3 separate regions of the Homo sapiens genome follow, and all the other regions are linked to region 1. Evidence: fine-mapped expression QTL. A gene starts in region 1. Each other region holds a variant in brackets. All regions are shown on one strand. Distances are between the middles of the regions.

What was found. PIP is the estimated chance that this variant, and not a neighbour inherited with it, causes the effect. A credible set is the group of variants that fine-mapping cannot tell apart.
Region 2: its variant is the best candidate, but not a certain one, in a credible set for the expression of RALGPS1 in Th17 cells (Schmiedel 2018, PIP 0.59).
Region 3: its variant is the best candidate, but not a certain one, in a credible set for the expression of RALGPS1 in whole blood (GTEx, PIP 0.84).

The regions. Positions count from the first base shown.
Region 1 is chr9:126,912,108-126,917,107 of GRCh38, forward strand. It overlaps RALGPS1 (Ral GEF with PH domain and SH3 binding motif 1), which reads left to right and starts at 2,675. Exons shown (of 19, transcript NM_014636.3): 1 at 2,675-2,868. RefSeq lists a silencer at 2,647-3,076 and enhancers at 3,567-3,636, 4,930-4,979.
Region 2 is chr9:126,972,322-126,978,793 of GRCh38, forward strand. RALGPS1 (Ral GEF with PH domain and SH3 binding motif 1) reads left to right here. Exons shown (of 19, transcript NM_014636.3): 4 at 5,374-5,424. Among named protein-coding and RNA genes, the nearest start is that of RALGPS1, 61 kb to the left of the region's middle. The variant T/C (reference allele first, on the strand shown) is at 2,670.
Region 3 is chr9:126,864,325-126,869,324 of GRCh38, forward strand. The region is part of intron 1 of ZBTB34 (zinc finger and BTB domain containing 34); the gene reads left to right. Among named protein-coding and RNA genes, the nearest start is that of ZBTB34, 6.2 kb to the left of the region's middle. RefSeq lists an enhancer at 4,148-4,729. The variant T/C (reference allele first, on the strand shown) is at 2,959.

The sequences.
Region 1 (5,000 bases):
ACCACTGTGTATCTTCTTTGGAGAAATGTCTATTCAGATCCTTCTCTCTCTCTCTCTTTCTCAGACTGCACTTGGCTTTATTGCTTTAAGAAACCTATTATTTCTCGCTTATCACCATCTAAACTTTTCTGTCTTCTTTAACGTTGAACTCCCTTCTTCCTTGCTTCATTTTACTCCCATAGCACTTTTCTCTATCTAGCCTACTACTGTAAATATTGATTTTAATAGCTGCCTTACCCCACTAGAATGTCAACTCCACGAGGACAAGAATTTTTGTCTCTTTTATTCACTGCTGTTTTCTCAGCATTTACAGTAGCACTTGGCGCATAGCAGAGAACCATTAGATATTTGTAGAAAGAATGAATACATCCTTCTGGAAGCATCAAGAATCAATATTAAATGACCTTTCCTCATTTTAAAATTGGGTTTATAATAACTTCTAATATATCACAAAAGAATCTGTGTTCATTGAAAAAACTTAGAAAGTATGCATAAGCATAATAAAAGTATAGATGCCATTTAGCAAGCGTACATTGCACACACTTCTGTGCTTGCCCAAAGTCACACAGGTAAATATAATAGTAGCCAATGTTTATTGAGGTCCTGTTAGGTGCCAGGCACTCTTCCATGTATCATCTCATTAATTCCTGCCAACAGCCTGTCTAAAGAGGTTGCTACTTTTATCATTCTCATCTTTCAATAAAGAAACCGAGGCAGGTTGGGCGCGGTGGCTCAAGCCTGTAATCCCAGCACTTTGGGAGGCCAAGGTAGGCAGATCACCTGAGGTCAGGAGTTCGCGACCAACCTGGCTAACATGGTGAAAACCCATCTCTACTAAAATACAAAAATTAGCTGAGCATGGTGTGTCTGGCGTCTGTAATCCCAGCTACTTGGGAGGCTGAGGCAGGAGAATTGCTTGAACCTGGGAGACGGAGGTTGCAGTGAGCCAAGATCGTGCCACTGCACTCCAGCCTGGGCAACAGAGCAAGACTCCGTCTCAAAAAAAAAAAAAAAAAAAAAGAAAGAAACGGAGGCACATAGATATGCTAAGTAACTTGCTCACATGTACACAGCTTGCTGGTGGCAGAGCCAGGGCAGAACCATTGCACTACACTGTCTCTTGTTCTCTCTCTCTCTTCTTTTTTTTTTTTGGGACGAAGTCTCGCTCTGTCGCCCAGGCTGGAGTGCAGTGGTGCGATCTCAGCTCACTGCAAGCACCGCCTCCCAAGTTCACGCCGTTCTCCTGCCTCAGCCTCCCGAGTAGCTGGGACTACAGGCGTCCGCACCACGCCCGGCTAATTTTTTGTATTTTTAGTAGAGACAGGTTTTCACCATGTTAGCCAGGATGGTCTCTCTCTCTTTTTTGAGACAGGGTATCGCTCTGTCATCCAGGCTGGAGTGCAGTGGCGCCATCACTTGAGGCTCACTGCAGCCTTGACCTCCCGGGCTCAAGTGATACTCCCATCTCACTCTCCTGAGTAGCTGGGACTACAGTCTGCGCCACCACGCCTCGCTAATTTTTGTATTGTTATTAGAGACAGGGTCTGGCCATGTTGCCCAGGCTGGTCTCACACTTCTGAACTCAAGCAATCCTCCCGCTTTGGCTTCCCAAAGTGCTGGGATTACAGGCATGAGCCAACTCGCCAGGCTCTTGTTCTCTTTATGCAAAATAATTAAGCACCTTCTTCGATGATTACCGTTTTCTTAATACAAAATAGCAGAAACTTCTCCCAGAGGTCTTTTAAGACACAGGTGGTTTAACTTCTACTGACTCTATTTATATTCTTTTTTGTTTGTTTCTTTTTTCCTTTCATAAGCTTTGGGAAGCATAATAACCAATCATTCCATATTCATTCATATTACTGCAAAATTACTTTGAAGATTGTCAGAATGATGTTCTATTTGTCCAAGAATCTTTCGGAGTAGGGCAGGTCATAGTACCTCCTGTCTGTGGGAGGCAGAACGGAGTTTTGCTGTGGTTCCAGATTTCCAGGGATTCACAGACCTGGCTTCAATTGTCTTTGCAATTTATTATCCCTGCGACTCTAGCTAAATGACTTAACCTCTGTGCCCACCTCACCGTGCCTGGCACAGAGTAAAGATGTGGGAGCAGAGAGACAGGATCCGGGCTCATTCCCCAGCTTTGCTCCTGTGTGGTCTTGGGCAAGTCCCTTCACCTCGTTGGGCCTAACTCTGCCCAGCTGTAAAATGGATGAGACCGCCCCCCCCCCCGCCCCGCCAGGAACTCCGAGGTTTCTTCTGGCTCTGACGTTCTGGGCTCTGTGCCTACCTCCCAGCTGTGAAGAATGGGCACTAAGGCGATGTCTCGCTCACAAAACCATTTTTGTTGAAAACGATAAATCCCAGGTAGGGATTTACGGGGGATATCGGGTGAGGCCTGGACGGCCGTGTGGGGAATAAGATGCGCGGCTATTTCTAGGCAGGGGATGGGCGTGGCGGGCGGCGGGCCGGGTGTGCTGGCAGCGCAGCATCCCTGCGGGCGGGGAGGGCGTCTGCAGATGAGCTCGGAGGCCGAGGCCCGGGAGGACCGCGGATGCAGCGGCTGCGCACTGGTACGACCAGCCGGCCGATTTGCGTGTCTCCGCCCCTACAACGAGCTGGTTGGGGGGCTGTTCTGGTGCCGCGCGCCGATTGGATGAGAGGCCCGCCGCTCAGGCCCTGGAGCGGACGGTTCCTACTGCGGCTGGGCACCGGCTCCGCTCCCGCGTCTGCCCGCGCTCCAGCTGCGCCTGGCCCGGCCCCGGCCCGGCTCGGCGTGGCCCCGGCCTCCAAGCGAAGGCGCCGCTGCCGCTGGGCCGCTCCCAGGGCCATGAGGAAGCGGCGGCAGCCACTGCGGCCCGCGTCAAGGTGACCGGCCGGGACTGCGGCGGCGGGGAGAGCGGCGGTGAGAGGCGCGGCCGACGGGGCGGGGCGGGGCGGGGCGGGCCCTGAGGCCGGGCCTGAGGGAGCTGCAGGTGTGGGGGGCGGGACCCCGAGGGCCGCCGAAGCCGGGGAGGGGCCTCGGTGCGGGAGGCGGGGCCGGGGCCGTGCCTGCGGGTGCCCGGCGCCGGGGCCTGGCCGGGGTCCGGGGGTTCTGGGGTCCGGGGCCAGGGGCGCGCTGGTCCCCGGGAGCGTGAAGGACGGCGGGGAAGAGGCGCGGGCGCGGGGGGCGGGGCCGGGGGGGCAGTTGGGCGGGGCGCCGCGGCTGCAGGTGCGGGGGGCGGGGCCGGCGGGGCTGCCGTGGGCGGGGCTGTGGGGTGCGGCCCGCGCTGGACCCAAGGAAAGCACAGGTGCGGGGGGCGGGGCCCGGGGACCTGCAGCGGTGGGGGGCGGGGCCCGGGTGGCTGCGGTACGGAAGCAGGGCCCCAGGTGAGGAGCAGGCGAGGGTGAGTGGTCGCCCGAGAAGGAAAGGCCGCCCTCTCCGCTGCCCAGGGGTGCTTGGGTGGGAGCGGGGGCTTTGGGCTCCCTGAGGATTCTGGGGGCATCCGGGGCTGCCGCTAGAAGGGCCGTCCGGGCCTGCCTGTGCCTCTGCTGACTCGGGCTTGGAGCTCAGCTGCCCTGGTTACTGGCCGGTTGCCTCCCCTATGCTACGCCGCGCCCTAAGTGGGGCGCGCTGTTTTTCGCACCTCAGGGGCTTTCCTGTTGCTATTGAAGGGGCTTGCCAGGATGCGGGGGGCGGGGGGTTGGTTGTCATTGGATGATCGGTTGTTGAAAAATGTGTGTGCTTGAAGAGTAGTATGAGGCTTGGGAGGGGTCCTGGCTTGCTGGCCACTGGTACCAGAAGCTGCTGTAGATCTCAGCAGTGCGTCTCAAAAAGACTGAAATGGCAGCCTGTTAAGTGGGGAGAGCAGGGATGAGAATTCAGAAGCTTTTGACTATGCTACCTGGGAGAGTTTTTCACCTGTTTCCTCCGTTGCAAAATGAGCATGTTAGTACCTGCCTGTGTGCCTCCCAGGGGCCTGGTGAGGATAGGATGAAACAGTGCCTACTGAGCAAATCGCTGGATAAAGTTATGAGTTTCCTTTTTCTTGTGCCGATGGGCAGGTTGGATTCAGGGACTGGAGAGTCTAAAGAAGAGAGGGTTTGTTTCTAGTTAAGAGGTGAGACTAGACCACTGTCTTTTCGCAGTTTGGGATGAGGTTTTGTTGGGAGTTCCCAAAAGACTCAGCCGTGTCTTGGATCGTGACTGCTTCTCTCTGCGAGGCCTCTGAGGGAGCTGCTGCAACGCAGGGAGCAGTGGCAAGTGGAAGCAGCAGAACATTTGTTTGCTGACCTTTAGACCCCAACCCCGGTGAGGACTCTGAGCTGGAACATAAAGCTCAGGCCTGAGGCTATGGAAGTCCCTCTGCCCCCATCCAAGTACAGACCCCGATTTTACCACATTCCAAGAGGGTCGGGCGCGGTGGCTCACGCTTGTAATCCCAGCACTTTGGGAGGCCAAGGCGGGTGGATCATTTGAGGTCAGGAGTCCGAGACCAGCCTGGCCAACATGGTGAAACCCCCTCTCTACTAAAAAATACAAAAGTCAGCCGGGCATGGTGGCGGGCACCTGTAATCTCAGCTACTCAGGAGGCTGAGGCCGAGAATTGCTTGAACGTGGGAGGCGGAGGTTGCAGTGAGCCGAGATCGTGCCACTGCACTCCACCCTGGGCGATGGAGTGAGACTTTTCCATCTCAAAACACACAAAAATCCCCAAAAGAAGACCCCCAAAAGAAGGCAATGCCTGACTCCACTGTGTACCCACAGGGGCGGGGAGAAGGAAGCAGGATGACAGGGCTTTTTCTGAATTTCAGAAGAGTGTTGTATACCCATATATGTGACCTTTCAAAGCCCAGTGCCTCTGCTCACTGGTAGTTGACCAGTCCAAACTGTAATGCCTCCTACCTTCGTTGCATGGACAGAAGTGAAGGTAGGTGGAGCCTTCTCTACTAACCTGAATTTTTTTTTTTTCACTGTAGAAGCTGTGGGACTTTAGGGGCCAGGAACCATGGTGCTGGCC
Region 2 (6,472 bases), 61 kb after region 1:
TGAGGAAAGAATCAAGCATTTGTCCTACCTTTTACTTTTGAACAAACTACACTGGATAACCAAACAGTAGATGAGGGAAAGTGTCTATTAAATTATTCAGTTAAGAAAAGGAAAAGAAATGAAAGAATTGGAATATCATCATTTTGTAACCCCAGTGAATGAAAATATCTAAGCAGTGAACATCAATAGCCACTAACATTACAAAAGGAGAGCCATTGTGTGCCTCCTGATGAAGCAGTGTGCCGCCACCTGCGGTCTTGCCAAAGGGATGCACCTGTGTCTGATGAAGTCCCTGGGTCCAGCTGCTGATTTGCAGACATACCAAGAATGGAAGAACACATTGACCTGTTCCATAAGTGTGGAGAACTTATGGCTTGGATTCTTCAGCAGATGTATTACAAGGAATATAAAGGGATGGAGAGAATATTTGTAGATTAAAAGAGATTTTAAAAGTACATATCGGCTGGGGCAGTGGCTCACACCTGTAATCCCAACACTTTGGGAGGCTGAGGTGGGCGGATCACAAGGTCAGGAGTTTGAGACCAGCCTGGCCAATATGGTGAAACCCTGTCTCTACTAAAAATACAAAAATTAGCCAGGCATGGTGGCGCACACGTGTAGTCCCAGCTACTCAGGAGGCTGAGGCAGGAGAATCGCTTGAACCCAGGAGGTGGAGGTTGCAGTGAGCCGAGATTGCGCCACTGCACTCCAACCTGGGCGACAGAGCGAGACTCCATCTCAAAACAAACAAAAAGTATGTATCAGGTTGAGCATGGTGGCTTACATCTGTAATCCCAGCACTTTGGGAGGTTGTGGTGGGAGGATTGTTTGAGGCCAGGAGTTAGAGATCAGCCTGGGCAACAGAGCTAGAATCCATCTCTACAAAAAATTAAAAAGTTAGCTGGGCATGGTGGCTTATACCTGTAGTTGTAGCTTCTCAGGAGGCTGAGGCAGGAGGGATCACTTGAACCCAGAATTTTGAGGTTAGCTCACTAGGTATGATCACACCACTGCATTCAAGCCTGGACAACAGGTAAGACACTCTCTCTAAAATAGGTAGGTAGGTAGGTAGGTAGGTAGATAGCACTTATCAAATTTTTAAAAAAGTGGACAGGACTACCCTGTGATGTATAGGTGTATATACTTGAGTGATTAAATTATTTAAAAAACTTGAAGAAAGTCAGGATAATGGTTACTTTTGGTGGGAGAGAGACTTGTGATTGGGACAAGTCACATTGAAGAACTTCTGGGGTGGCTCTTTTATTCGTTTTGATTGTGCCAAAATATACGTAATATAAAATTTACTATCTTAACATTTTTCAGTGTACAATTCAGCAGTGTTAAGTACATTCACAGTGTCATGTAACCAATCTCCAGAACTGCTTTCGTCTTGCAAAATGGAAACTCTGTATCCATTAAACAACTCCCCATTCCCTCTCCTCCCAACCCCCAGCAACCACTACTCTACTTTCTGACTCCATGATTTTGACTCTTCTAGTTACCTCATGTAAGTGGAGTCATATAGTATTTGTCTTTGTGACTTTTCTGTAGATTTGACTTTCTGTTTTGTTTTGAGACAATCTCACTTACTCCCAGGCTGGAGTGCAGTGGTGCGATTTCGGCTCACTGCAACCCACTCCTCTCGGGTTCAAGCAATTCTCTTGCCTCAGCCTCCTGAGTAGCTGGGATTACAGACATGCACCACCACACCCGGCTAATTTTTGTATGTCATATTACAGACAGGGTTTCACCATGTTGGCCAGGGTGGTCTCGAACTCCTGACCTCAAGTGATCCGCCAGCTTCAGCCTCCCAAAGTGCTATGATTACAGGCATGAACCACTGTGCCCAGCCTAGTTTGACATTTTTTAAAAATGAAAAGTTAAAAAAGCTTTAAATAAGTTACTGCTAGATTAATTTTCAAAAGGAACAGAACAGTTCCTAGGCCCATCCCCTGACTCTTTTCTAAATTGCCGGACACGGGCTTTCTGTGGTTCTGTGAGTCAAAGCAGGAATAGATCTTTGGAGCTGATTACTCTGTTCTGTGCGCCCTCCTGGCCATGCCTTGGTGGAGTGGGGTAAAGCCAACAGCTTTTTTTGTTTGTTTATTTGGGGTCTGGAAGACCCTTACATTTAAGGTTGAGGCTGGGAAGAGAGGATTTAGTCAGCCACTGTTAGAGAGGAGAAATACTACATTTAACATATGCAAAAAACTTTTTTTTTTCCTTTTGGCTAACCAAGTAGCATTTCCCTTAAAAGCCTGGGTTTTTAGAGGGCCCTGGACTAGGAGGAAGGAGGAGATGGGAGAAGGCTTAAGGAAGCCATTGCCAGGTGACTAGCTTGACTGGACATCCTATGTTAATGCTTTATTTCTCAAAATAAGGATAGGCCATTAAGAGACTTACGAGTGTTCTCGCTCAGCCCCACTACTGGCCGGATTTGCTGCTTGGAAACGAGAGTGGGAGGCTCCTTGTCTCATGTTTCTGTTGAGGCTGTAACATACCCCTAGAAAATGCCTTTTCTCTCCAGGAAACCAAGGTACCTCTCCTGAGGGAGGGACAGGGCGCTGAGATGGTCCCGAGAGCTGGCTATGAAGTGTGACAGGACCTGACCTCACCTCTTACCCCAACCCCTACCCATACTTCCCACCCCCCTTTTTGGTAAAACTGAG[T/C]GGCCTTGAGGGTTCAAACTTCCAGGGAAGGATTACTCATCAGCGACCTCTAACATATGTTTGGCTTTTTAGTAAAATGGCATGAAATCGATAATCTGATGATCTTTGTAAGTATCTTGTATCAAAATATCCTTGCTCTAGATACTGTATCTTTTTTGGTCAGAATTGAAAGGATAGAAATAGAGATTCTTCTGAAACCTCATTATGTATTTCGGACTAGCTAGTCTAAGTCTGGTGACCTCTGTTGTTGTTTGTTTTGAATAAAACACCTGAACACATTTTCTGACTTATGGTCTGAGCAGAGAGCAGAATATTTGAAACTTGGACCATCCAAAAAGTGTGAAATGTAAGGTCACTGCTTTAATAAATCATCTGGAAATTCAGTAGCAAACCCTAGAACTGGTGGCAGGATGGAAAGGAAGTTTTCTCATTTTCACATTAGCAGACGTTTGGTTCTTTTCCTAAATGACATTGCAAACATCCTGCCGGTTCTCCCGGATAGGGTGTTAACTTGAAGTGCAGGGGAGATTTCCAAGGTCCTCTGAGCTTTCAGGTCAAATCTCCTGTCTTTACAAGGCCTTTCTGTTCCCCAGGATGGCAGACTTAATCCAAATATGAGAAGCACTTGGCTAACCATCTTGATGGATCTGGCAGAAGAAATGCCAGTCTGTTTGCACTGCTCAGGACATAGTTCTGAGCCATGGAGCTCTAGGCCAAACATAGACCTATAGGCCTTCAGGGCTTACTGGCCACTCAACACCCAGATTATGAGGGCCAGATACATTATGCTGATGTCAAGAGTCTCCTTGACATCAAGAGGTGTTGGGTGGAAACTGGAGGCGGAAGAGCTCAGATTCCGCTCCAGTGCTTCCTTATTCCTGGTCCTCTCTCCCACCTCTCAGCCAGGCTGGTGGCAGCATCTCACCCGTTTCCATGAAGAACACTAGCTCCGCTCCTGGGAGAGTACAAAGAGGCTCTCCACTGAAGCCAGCTGCATGTTTTCCTCTCCACTCTGCCTGAGGATGGTCTGCTTTGGCCTGTATCCCGTGCTTCTCAGGAACCCAGTGACCTTGGACCACCTTTGAGTGTGTTGCCATTTTTCTCTAATATATTCTTAATACAAGGGTTTTTACTGGCTCAGTGGATTTTAAACATGTTCTTTAGAGCAACCTCAGTGCATGAATATTCAACCAAATTAATGGTCCCTTATTTGCTAGCTTATGTATTGGTCAGGAACCGTAAGTTCACATGCCAGTACATGAGCCCATCTGTGTGGCTTCCATTTTGACACACACACACCCCCTTACACTCAACACTCATTCTCACACACACACACACACACTTTCATATACACGCACACACGTACACCCTCACACATACACACACTTATACGCTTACACTCACATTCACAGTCACACACACCATATACTCACACACACACACACACACTCAGATACACACACATAAACACACTGTCTTATGTGTTTATTGAGCATCTGTCAGGTGCCAGGAACGCTACCTCTTGTCTTGAATTTTCACCAAGATCCCATAAAATAGGGATTATTGTCATCATTTTCTAGATGTGGTACCTGACTGAGAGAGATTGTGTGTCAAAGAGAACATTGCCGTTAAGTGACAGTGTCCAGACACACACCCAAGCCCTGTAGACTCCAGAGCCCATTTGTTCCCTGTATCATGTCATCCTGGATGGCCTGTGTTCAATGGACAGAGTGTCTTCTCACATTAAAGGCATCCAAAGGTCTTCAGCTCTCCTCTCCCTGGCGTGTCACAGAGGCATCTCTTAACTGACATCTGGCATCCCATGTGACATGGAGGTAGGTGGATCACGTGAAGTCAGTTCAGTTCATGCCTTGGTCTGAAAAATGGTCAGCATGATGCTTCCTGTTACTGTCACCAGATGAGGTTCTTATGATGGGCACAGCCTTTTAACCTGATGTGTGTCTTCTCTATTGATGACATTGCTGCATCTTAAGCCGGCTGTGGTGAAGGACTAGTTTTTTCCATTTGCAATAATTTGAGGACAGATACTTAAAATGTATATAATGGAAATGTCATGGTCATGTAAAAAATTGCTATGCAAGTTCCAAATGCTTGCTCTCAGCTTCTGTACTTCTCTCATTGTGGGCTGGTGGAATAAACAGTTTGTTGTCCCGTGCTGGTCTGTGGGTGCGTCTTGAATAGCACTCTACCATATAATTTAGGGGCAGTATCAATGACTTCAGAAGAAAAATATAATTTCTATAAGCCACAGCTTTAAAATGAACTTAATTTATAGTAATAGTGTTTCTGTTTAGCATTCTAATTTTAAATATTGTTTCTACAACTTTAAAAAATTACAAAAGTAGTTCATGCTTGAAATACAAATTCAAATAGTATGAAAATTTTCAAATAAAACTGTTCCCTTTTCTCCCAGGCCCACCCCCCAAACAACTTTTATCAATTCCTAAATTGAAAGTTCATCTCACATTCAAGAAAGAAGGGTGTGGATCAGAATTTATGAAGCGGGGGAAGGGATGGGAGAGGCATTTCAGAAATGTATCCAATTTTTTACTCTATTTGGTCTTGTTTTTTATCTCAAAGGGGAAAGTATAACTTTTATGAGTGTATATGACTCTGTATAAAGTAACATGACAGTTATCTTTGATGTACAGTATTTTCTAAAATTGATTCTCTTTTGTTGCAGAGCCAGATTACATTAATGGATATACCTGTGTTTAAAGCTATCCAGCCGGAGGTCTGTACTTTGTCTTTCTACTCTTCTATTCATGCTGTGGGTGGGCAGCGAGGATTTAGCCAGCCACTGTTAGAGTGTCTCAGTTTCTCTCTTGCAGGCTCTATAAATGCATGTTATCCATTTAAACCCCATTCTATTCTTGATGGTGCTCATGTTTTTGAGCCCAGTATTTGGATTTTCCAGAGAATGTCTCCCGTCTGGCCTACTCTGGCAGGGCTGGGAGCAGTTGGTACCCACAGGACTCCACGCCTGAGAGTCAGGTCTTAACACCCTCATTCCTTTTCCCAGGCTCCTCCTGCTGAAAATGTTTGCTTTCAAGAAGTGATGTGAGGGAACATTTTTCTGGAAAGTTCTCTTTTTGTTCATCCCAAATTCTGGTGGTTGCCTTGTTTCTATTTTTGAAACCAGTTGCCGAAGCAAACATGTACATATTTACATTGAAAGCATATATGGGTCAGGTGTGGTGGCTCACACCTGTAATCCCGGCACTTTGGGAGCCCTAGGTGGGAGGATCGCTTGAGATCAGGGGTTTGAGACCAGCCTGAGCAAAATAGTGAGTGTCAAAAAAAAAAAAAGCATATGTACATTTTTAGAAACAGCATATTCAATAAAGGGTAAAAAGTTGATTTTGGTCTTAAAAAAATTCCTGGAAATGTTTGGCAATTGATAACAAGGTTTTGGTTATTTTACCCAGGGTGTGTGTGTGTGTGCGTGTGAGATCAGGTAAACAAAAATCCATTTCAAAGTAGCTGAATAGGGAGGCTGAGGCAGGAGAATTGCTTGAACCCAGGAGGTGAAGGTTGCAGTGAGCCATGATTGTGCCATTACACTCCAGCCTGGACAAAAGAGCGAGACTCTGTCAAAAAAAAAAAAAAAAGTAGCTGAATAGGCTGAAGAGGAATTTATTACAAGGATAAAGGGACACTTTACAGAATTCATGGGGTGAGTTCAGGCATCCAGAGAGCCACCAGGACACAGGCAGTCCCTACTTCCTGCTCCGCTTTTACCTCTCCTTCTCCTGCTTTCTTGTCTGATTTGACCTGATTTG
Region 3 (5,000 bases), 48 kb before region 1:
CATACTGTACACAGTAGGAGCCTACTGACCGTTAGTCCTTGTCATTGCTAGTAAAATTAAAGAGGCCATTCCTCTCCTGCTTGGAAAGCTCAGAAGAAGCTTCTGATGATGTTTTGCATTGACTAAAAGACAAATCGCACCCTCTTGGAATTAGTGTATCTGAGCAGACCTGGAGAATGTTAACGCCTTGGTAGGAAATGTAACAGTTTGGATAAAAATGTTCTTTCAGGCTCACATGAATTAATGCAGTAAGAACTCTAAACTTGTTTTCTTTTAAATTAGGATGAGTGCTTCATGAATATCCATCACAGAATGCCATTTTATTTATTTTTTTTTTCTTGCATTGGGTTTCAGTAGCACCAGAATGTTTCACACAGCCCTGGTGTTATTTGACTGCTGCTTTCTAAAAGATTAGATTGTAGCTCATGACAGCTCAATTTTGGTTTTAATCTAGACCCAGGCAGAAATACCTAGAAAAGTTATTTTTATATAATTGTTACTTCTGTTACCATGCCTTTTGTCTGCGGTGCTTCAGTCTGTGGTCTTTTTAATGACTTTGTATGAAAATGAAAATTAGGGATCTTCAGGTTTCCAGTGCCTGCCAGAGAAAGCCTCGTTTGAGCTGTGTCTCAGGTATCAGCAAATGACTGAAGCCAGCAGGTGCAAATCTGGGTTTGGAATCATGAGCATCTTGATTGAGAATAATGGGTACCTCCTGGTGCCTTAAACAACTTCCAAATTTGTAACTTTCCTTTCTTTTCTTGGAAGTGTAACTGGATATTTTTAAACAAAGTGTAGCATCTTGTGGAGCAAATTAGACTGTTTATGGGTTAGGTTGGAATAAGCCACCGTGCTAGATTTTGCTGTGGGCAGAGACGATCCCGCATCTCTGGGGTCTCCAGAAGGAAAAGTTCAGAGCTGAGGGTGCGGCTGTAGTGGCAGTCCATGGATCTTGAGCCACCAGCTTGTTTTAGTTGACATGTACTGAGAGCCTCTCTGCCCCAGACACACTGCTGGGCTCTGGGCACGCAGTCCCTGCCCTCAGAGAGCTCACCGCCAGGAGTGGAAGCTCAGCAGTGAGGAGTCTCACAGAATCAGCACATTTCTAATTGTTCAGCTTTTACATTTTTACTTTTGTTCTGGTTGTTGATATGTGGAGACAGTTCCAAGGCTTTATCCAAGAAAGTTGTAGAGGAGATTTTAAGGCCCAGGTGGGTGTTTTGCCCAGATGGCATCTGAGAGTCCCTTCTTATTTTTAGGTTCTCTGCAGAATGGGTCAGCAGTGTGAGAGGATGTCATTAGTTTTCCATTGTTGCATTTCCTCACAGCTTAACAGAATACGTGGTGCAGAATTTTACTTAAAGATACTAGCCAATGGGGCCGGGCGCAGTAGCTCATTCCTGTAATCCCAGCACTTTGGGAGGCTGAGGCAGGCGGATCCCTTGAGGCCAGGAGTTCGAGACCAGACTGGTCAACATGGTAAAACCCTGTCTCTACTAAAAACACAAAAATTAGCTGAATGTGGTGGCACATGCCTGTAATCCCAGCTACTCAGGAGGCTGAGGCATGAGAATCACTTGAACCTGGGTGGCGGAGGTTACAGTGAGCCGAGATTGCACCACTGCACTCCAGCCTGGGCACAGAGCAAGACTCTGTCTCAAAACAAAACAAAAACAAAACTAGTCAGTGGAAAGGCTTGAGGAGAGGGCTAGGTGAGGATGTTACCCCCTTCATCAGGTGCTGTGTTTCCATTCCTCTTTTCTAGGAGCAAACACCCTTTCTATTCTCAGCCTTCTCTCTTTTTTTTTTCCCTCCCCGAGTAACCTCATTTTACCAAAACGATCCTCAGTCAGTACACAGTCACTCCCAAATCAGTATCTTCGGGTCTAATATTTCTCTCTAGCTCCAGCCCCATATTTCCCACGACCCCGTGAAAAACCTGAGCCCAGCTTGTCCTGGCTGAGCTACGTGGCCTCCGAGTAGACACCATGCCTCAGTCTCCAGGTGCTGCCGCCAGAATTCTGTTTGAGTTCTCTGAGTATTCAAGGCCCTCCACCTTCTGACTGTGGCCTTCTCCTTCCATGGCCTTCCTTGTCCCTGAGCTGGGGCCACTGCATGCTGCCTGCTCTACCCCAGACGCTGTTTGCATTCCCCTGTGCCCTGTTCCTGCTTTTCCTTCTGTCTGGAGTGTTCTTTTTTTTCCCTTTGAAATGCAAGGCCTTGTTCAAAAATATCTTCCTCCATGAAGTTTTCTTTTGTTCTATTTTGATTTTTTAAAAATCTTTTTGGTCAAAAGTAATCAGCCTTGTATTGTTCCTTGTAGTTCTTCGTTTCTGCCTTTATAACTGTCTGCTTGATGTAATAATTATCCATTTGCAGCCCATCTTTCTACTCTAGATTCCTTGGTTTAAAAAATTATATATTTGTAGGTACTAACCTACATGGCTTAAAAAAAAATTTTAGTGAGAATAATAGTTATGTGATTTTTTAAATGCAAAGGTATAAAATAAAGTCTGTTTCCCTTCCCTCTCCTTAGTCCTTCCCCACAGTGACCACCATTAATAGTACCACGTGGTTCCTTCCAAAATGGATACAGCAAGCAACGTAATATAATTCCTTTACAAAACGTACATGAAGGGAATGACATATATGCATACATATTAGTCTACATCTTGCTGTTTTTGGCTAAATCTTAGCACTCCTTCCATATCAAAGCATACAGATCTACCCACTCTTCTTAATAGCTGCGTAGTATTTCATTGTTGATTATATTTTTTGAAACCAGTTTCCTTTGGGGGTTCCTTTTTTTTTTTTTTTTTGCTATAGCAAAGAAAAATTCTTAGTGGTTGTTCTCATATGTCTCTCTTACACTTTTGTAGGTCCTATATATTAGTAGGCTTAATTCCTCCCCGTTACTTGTGGACCAAAAGGTAAATGCCTTTTACATTTTGATAGATA[T/C]TACCAAATTATTCATTCCTGAGGACTACACTTGCCAGCTCTTTTAAACTGTGTGCAAGGCTGATGGGTTAAAAATGGTATCTCATTATTTTTTCTTTTTGTATTTCAAACGTCTTTAATCAGAAGTAAATTTTAGCATCTTTGCTTCTTTTTTTGTCATTTTTCTTTTTTTTTTTTTTTTGAGCTGTTTGTATCCTTTGCCCATTCTCCCATAGGGGTTTTTTTTGTGTATGTCACCTAATTTGATTTGTAAATTAAGGAATTTGGAAAGTAGTTCTTTGTCAAATATGCATATATTTTTCCTCAATATATCATTTATCTTTTGGCTTTTGGCGAAAAGGGGTATTTTTTTTGTCATGTACTTTTACGTTGTCGAATGTATTTGTCTTTGCCTTTGTGGCGTCTGAGATTTATGTCATGCTTGGAAAGGCCTTTGTGTCAGTGTTATAAATAAATTCACCCATGTTGTCTTTCATTTTTTTGTTTTTTTTTTTTTGGTGATAAGTCTTTTTAAAATACTGGCATAGGAATAGAGTGGCATTAAATGGAAAGTAATAAGATCCTCCATACATTCCTTGGTGCTTTATAAGAAATTGGTTGACATGTGACACCTTTGAAAATTCAAAGGAGCTGTGTTTGCCATTGGTGGGCCACGGTATTTTATGTGACCCTCTAATGTTACATATAAGGGCAGTTATTGCCTTTTTGCCTCTTTTACTAACTCAGTGAGGGTGGGGAGCTGAATGGAAGAGCAGGGGCTTGAGTTACTGGTTTCTGTTCACCCTTCTCAGCCTCAGCCGTGAATGTGACATGATGGTCGCTTGCTCTTCCTGTTTTTGTCGAGTGGCTTTTTGTTCTTAAGCCCCTTTGGGTAAAATGCGTTAACCTGGATTGGGGGGTGTCTCTCCCTTGTGTGTTGTTGCAGAGCAGCCTCTTGCTGTCCTGATGCATGGGCGCAGTGATGGATTCTGTAGCTTTTTTGAGTGGGATCTTGCGAAGATGTCAAGCAGCATTACTTACCAAGCCTGTCGTCATATGGTCTCGCATCAGACCTTAATTTTCTTTTCAGCGCATCCATGCCTGCTTATTTCCAGAGCCCCCGCTTTGGCTTTGGACTTCAGGTCTGTGGGAGGAGTGTCCCAGGATGGCTCGTGCGGTCATTTCCAGGCAGTGCCGCTCTCCCTGTGGCTTGTACCCACAGTGCCTCACTGTGTGAGTGTCCTCCTGCTCTGGTTGCCCAGCCGGCCATCACTCCACAGCGTGTGTTCATTTCTCCCAAAGCTGCTCGCCTTCAGCTGTGCTCACCTTTGCAGTGTGGCTTCCATGTCTGCCGTCCTCTGGTGCTTTCAGACTTGGCTTCGTCACTGCTTGGTCAGTCCTGGAGGGCCCCTCACAGTTTGCTGTTGCTTTCAGGGCGCCGGTCTCAATGCTGCTTTGAATTCTGTTGAACTTGGGCTGAACCCTGTGTCTTCTTGGCAGCATCTGCTCTCTGTGACTTTCACCTTCAAACACCAAAAGGACCGGTTTACTTGAGCCCTAGATCTGTGGTTTCTAATTAATTGAGGCTTTCGCATGTAAAGATAGCTTTTTATTTAAAGCAAGTAGAGTGAGCCAGGGTCCGGGGCTCTGAGGAGGAAAGGGGGATCAAAGCTGTGAATATGGAGGGCATGATACACGGTGGCCGCGGGGCCCACCTGGAACATTCTTCTCCTCATAACCCTTCTGCTAGTGATTCTGGTCTAGAAAAGAGGGAGATTTTGCTCTACAAAGAGGGTGCTTCACTAAACTCCTACAGCTGAAATTGCTTGGTCACAGCGAATATGCAGATGTAATCTTGATGGATATTACTAAAATGCCCTCATTTGCCCTTCTCTATTCTGGGCAGCAATAGGGAGGATGTTTGCCCACCCCCACCCCCCACCCCATCTCCATCCCTTTCCTTGACACTGTCCTAGGGCAGGAATGTAACACAGGTCCAGCTCGCTAGGGATAAGGGGTTGTTGTATAGGGACCTAGATACGCACACTTCAGAAGGGTCCTGG